2 separate regions of the Homo sapiens genome follow, and region 1 is linked to region 2. The links come from fine-mapping of genetic effects on gene expression. Tissue or cell type: whole blood. Region 2 holds a variant in brackets; the other region holds the start of a gene. All regions are shown on one strand. Distances are from middle to middle.

The links. PIP is the estimated chance that this variant, and not a neighbour inherited with it, causes the effect.
Region 1: NME4 starts here. The variant in region 2 is fine-mapped to the expression of NME4 in whole blood (INTERVAL, PIP 0.98).

The regions. Positions count from the first base shown.
Region 1 is chr16:396,129-398,743 of GRCh38, forward strand. NME4 (NME/NM23 nucleoside diphosphate kinase 4) reads left to right here and starts at 1,071. Exons shown (of 5, transcript NM_005009.3): 1 at 1,071-1,185. The coding sequence starts at 1,095. RefSeq lists an enhancer at 662-711 and silencers at 1,002-1,491, 1,632-1,701.
Region 2 is chr16:628,034-630,757 of GRCh38, forward strand. It overlaps RAB40C (RAB40C, member RAS oncogene family), which reads left to right. Exons shown (of 6, transcript NM_021168.5): 6 at 1-1,235. Among named protein-coding and RNA genes, the nearest start is that of WFIKKN1, 1.6 kb to the right of the region's middle. RefSeq lists enhancers at 1-107, 1,577-2,310, 1,836-2,130, 2,311-2,724. The variant G/A (reference allele first, on the strand shown) is at 1,367.

The DNA.
Region 1 (2,615 bases), 230 kb before region 2:
GAGCAGAGATATGCCATTATTGCACTCCAGCCTGGGCAACAAGAGCGACACTCTGTCTGAAAACAAACAAACCTCAATTGTCTGTTATACACTTGCAATGGACAATTCAAATAAGAAAACAATTCCATTCACAATAGCAGCAAAAAGAACAGGCTTTTTCAAGACTCATTAAGTAAGTTCTAGCAGTGGGAGACCTAACCATTTCAAATAGTAGCATGCTGTGCTATCTACCCAAATATTACCGTACCTGTGAATTCTGTTGGTGACAAAGTCACAGGCCCTGCAACTATGAATGTGGCTTCTTCCTTATATCCGCAATTGAATGAATTAGAGGAATGCAGTCACATCAGAGGCCATTTGAGAATAAAGGTCGGATTTTTCCCCATTCAAATTCACAGACCAGGCTCACATCTGTAATCCCAGCACCTTGGGAAGCCAAGGCAGGAGGATTTCTTGATCCCAGGAGTTTGAGACCAGCATGGGCAACATAGGGAGGCCCCATCTCTACAAAAAATTAAAATATTAGCTGGTTGTGGTGGCGCGGGTCTGTAGTCCCGCCTACTCGTCCTGGCCGCAGAGTCAGCGTCTCCGGAGCGCCTCCTTCTCCCGCCCTGGGGCTCACGTGGGAATTTCACCCTCCATTGGAGGGGGCTCAGACCAGGGCTTCTAGACCTCCTTTTGGTCCGTGAATTTATTTTTGAGACAGAGTCTTGCTCTATTGCTCAGGCTGGAGTGCAGCGGTGCAGTCACAGCTCACTGCAGCCTCAATCTCCTGGGCTCACGCGATCCTCCTGCCTCAGCCTCCCGAGTGGGCCTTCCTCCGTGGGAAAGCGTTAAAACGATAGTTAACGGTTGCGTCGGTGTAAAGACGAATGCAATTCGAGAAGGATTCATTATTATTTTGTTTTTTCTTCTGATTTTTAACAGAAATTGGCGTTGAACATTTCCCCCGTGAGCGCCGGGCCACGGGGGTCCGGGGCGGCGGGGGGCTCCGGGGCGGCGGGGGGCTCCCGGGCGGGCGGGGGCGGGTCTCGGGCTGGCACCGCCCTCCGCGCCCGCTCCTCGCGCTCACAGCGGCCCGCGGGCCGGGCGTCATGGGCGGCCTCTTCTGGCGCTCCGCGCTGCGGGGGCTGCGCTGCGGCCCGCGGGCCCCGGGCCCGAGCCTGCTAGTGCGCCACGGCTCGGGTGAGTGGGGCCGCGCGCCCCGGCGGGGACGCGGAGGGGAGGAAGGGGCGCGCGCCGCTCGGCCTTTGTGCGCGCACGTGCGGGCTGGGGTCCGACTCCCCCAGAGGCCTCGGGGCGCGGGCTGCGGGGTCCGTCCGAGTTGGGGAAGGCGCCGGCTCGCACCCGCACGCCCCTCCAGTGCCCGTCCGGCTCTGCGGCTCCTTCTCGCCTCCCCAGGCCCCAGGCTGCAGGCGCCCGGCGAGTTGGCAGCCTGGGCGGGTCCGGGGCGACCGAGGGCCCGGGAGCGCAAGGAAGGCAGAGGCCGGCTGCAGCACTGGGCGGGGAGGGGGTCTCCCGGCCGGGGTGGGGGTGGGGGTGTGGGGGGGTGAGGGAGTCGGGGGGTGGGGGTGGGGGTGTGGGGGGGTGAGGGAGTCGGGGGGTGGGGGTGGGGGGAGCCGCTCCGCTGGGGCGTTCGCTGAAGGCCAAGTTAGGCCAGAATCTGACTGGGACGTCAGGCCCCAAGTCCCCGGCCCCGCCGCTGCCCGGCCCCCCCAGCTGCCACCTCACAGGACGATCCATGTCCCAGGGCTCCCTCCATCGGCTCTGAAAAGTGAGCCGCCGCCTGCAATGCCCGCACCAGCCGCAGCAGAGCCCCAGGCTACACAAGGCGCCCTGCAAACTGGGTTTTGGGGGAACAAACCAACCAGGGGGTCTTCCTCCCGTGGGCTTCAGCCGCCTGCTGGGGTTAACTTTTCCTCCTGGCCTGGCGGAGCCCCTTTGGCTCTGTCCAGATTCTGTGGGACATACAGGGTCTGGGCTCCTCTGGAAACCAGGGACCCGATGCCGGAGGGTAGCTTGGCTCTGGAGCAGCCTGGGACTATAGGAAGGTGAGGACGTCTTCTGTTTCCCTGGCAGCGTCCCCTCCAGAGGAGGACGGCTGGGGCGGAGCTCAGCGCTGACCCTGGGTCTGGAAGCGACAGGCCTTGAAACTCCACAGCAGCACAGGCCCCGTCTCCTGGCTCGGACAGAACCCTGCTACCTTCCCTCTTCAATCTTCAGGCCCCTTTTTGTCCGTGTTTCCAGGGCTCACCTGGTGGGGAAAGTGTGTTTCTCCCTGGTTCCCTGCCACTCATTCACCTCAGACACAGGGTGGGCTCTGGGTTCTTCCTCATGTGGAAAGTCGGGGCTTCAGACCATGTCTGTCGTCATCCAGAAGGGATGGAGTCAAAAGTGAGGCTGGAGTTTTGCAGGATCTCCAGACTTCCCTGAGGCCACTGAGCTGGGCTGTGCCTCTGTGGACCTCAGGGTGGTCGCTGAGCTGGGCTGTCCCTCCCTGGACCTTGAGGTGGTCCCTGAGCTGGCTCTGCCTCTATGGACCTTGCGGTGGTGGTCCCTGAGCTGGGCAGTGCCTCCCTGAACCTCGGGGCGATCTCAGGCAGCCTCTGCCTCTG
Region 2 (2,724 bases):
CGCACTTGGGACTCCTCGAGAGGGGACTCGCGGCCGCGATGGCAAGGCATCCTGTGAATTCATGCGCTGCGAGTGGCGGGGCTGCCCAGAGGCCGGGGGAGCAGACAGGGCCGGTGCTCCCTCTGGAAGCTTGGGTGACCGGGGCCCTGGCTCCCACGGGATGGAGGGTGTGGTCCTGTGGTCAGAGCCCAAGCAGCACTCAGGAGAGGGGAGAAAGGAGGTGCACCTGGCAGCCCACATTTTTGTTGCTCCCCAAATCCCTCCCCACGTGGGGATGAGAACCTTCCTGCTGTGATGTGACACCTTCGGGGACATTGACCACTCAAAACTCAGATCATCTCGCCCACCCTGGAGAGTGCAGAGCTATCTGTAGACTTAGGAATACTTGATGGGCAGCGGTGCAGACCCCGGGCACCTGCGTGCAGCCTCCTGTTCTCGGCAGCTTCTGTCGCTGGCCCTGGGGTCCCCACAGCTGCAGCTCTCCTGTGAGGTTGCACGGCATCAGAACCATCCTGACCTTCTTAGGGACGTGCCTGGAACCACCTCGTCCACGTCCACGTCCACCTGGGGGCCTCGGGAGGCTAGGCCCCTCCTCAAAGGCCCACCAGCCCGGCGCTCATGCTGAGCCCCAGGCACGCAGGGCCGGCCACCTCTCTCCTGAAGCCATTGGCCGCTCCTCCACCCAGTGCTTCTGCCCATGCCTGCCCCAGCAGCCCCTCTGCACGGTCACCATCGCCTGGGCCTGCCCACAGCACTGGTGCTCACCTCTACCTCCTGTCCTCAGGCCGTGCGGCACGACATGGCCAGCACGCAGAAGGAGCCCTCCCGGGACCCAGGACCCCCCGTGGTGGACTCCGCGGCACATGCTTCCCAAGGTGGTCCCACGGAGGGTGTTACTGGGCACCAGTGGACTCGCCCCATGGCCCGTTCCTGGGAGATGAGGGCCGTGGCCTGCATGAACTACCAGATGAGTAAGGGAACCCCAGGCAGGCGGCCCTGCCACAGCCCCCAAAGACACTGGCCTCCTGCTCCAGCTTCCCTGTCCTGGCCCCACCTGTCCTGTTGCTGCCAGCAGGGCCCTTGTTTGGGATTATGAACAAACCTCACAGACTTTGAGGACCTGGATGGTCCTGCATTCACGGCATCAACACTACCCGCGCTGCTGTTAGACACTCCGCCATTCCTGGTTCTCTCCGAACCGTTCTTTGTACAGTAAATGTAATTCAGCTGTGGTCCCCACGTTTTGCTGTGTCTGGTGGGGTGGGTCTGGCAGTGGCGGTGCCCCGTGCCAGGGGCCAGTGCTGCTTCATACCCGGCAAACTGACCTCTGGCCTTTGTTTTGCCTGCTGTTCCCTGCGCTGACCGG[G/A]CTGACCTGCCGCGGTTGGCTGGGTTCGCCTCAAAGTGAGGGCTGGAGCTGGGCTGGAGCAGCTGGGCCTGGTCACGGCCATTCTCCTCTTCCCGGTGGATGGAATCCCAGCTGGGCTGTGCTGAGCCCTCGCTCACAGTCCCCGGCAGCAGATGGCCTGGGGCGGACTGTCCCCAACAGCAGCAGGACTCCAGAGGGCCAGGTCCTCCAGTCAGTCGGCCCGCTCAGCAGAGCCGCCTGCACGCTGGCCAATCTGGTGTCTGCTATGCCCGGCCCAGGGGGGTGTGGACGCCCCGGAGGTCACAGCTGAGCTGGAACGGGGCACTCCAGTTGGTACAGGGACCAGACCACAGCCTCTGGCTCAGGTGCCTCCCTGTGCTGTTTCGTGGGCATGTCCGGGCCTTAAGCCCCTCCCTGGCAGCTCCAGCCCAGCCGCCTGCTGCTGGGTCTGGCCTAGCTACCCCCACCCCCACGCTATCAGGGCCCACCCCCAGTCTCCTTGTAGAGCAGGGACTGGCGCCTGGAGCCGTCTCCGGGTCTCATTCTGACCAGACCAGGCTCCTGTTACCCTGCCTCCTGGGTCAGAGGTCAGACACAGGGTCAGGGGGACACTCCCATCCGGTCTCAAGAGAACCACTCCCTGAGGCCCCAGACATCTGGAGCCACAGAGGGTTTGGAAGGGTAGATTCCAGGCAGCCTTTTGTCCTGCTGCACCAGGCAGGCCAGCCCCCTGCCCTCCCCAACGAAGAGGAGCCAGCCTGGGGATGTGTGCCCCGCCGACGGGGGGCTGGGGCAGGGCAAGGCTCTGGTGCCCTGGGACACTTGCTCTTTTCAGCTGCAGACGCCCTTGCACTTGGCCTTCCCTCGGGCGGTGCCATCCCACGCGGAGCCACGTCCAGGGCTACACGGTGCGTGGGCCGAGGCTCCGGCATCAGCGTTTCGGGCTGTTCTTATGCTTGTGGTGGCCACAGGCCTCTTCCTGCTGCACCTGCCCCGCCTTGGGGACAGGCCTGAGCCCCAAGCCCGCTGCCTGGTTTCAGGGATGGGGTCTCTGGGAATGCAGTCCTGCCGGGTTGGGCCCCACTCCAACAGGGGCAGCAGAGCAGAGGAGGCCGGGCTGTGCTGGGCGTCCTGCAGACCCCTGTGCCCCTGAAACAGCCATGGAGGGGGGAAGGAACCTCGGAGCGGAGTGAAGCCCTCGGCCGCACGTGACCGTTGCCAGCCTGGACCTGGCCCGGGGGACCCAGGCTGTGGTCAGCCACGCTCTGCGGGGAGGGCCCGTGCCTGCCACCCCCATGGCATAGGAGCCTGGGGTCCAGAGGGCGCCAGGGACAAAAGCTGGGATCTGCTGGCCCTGC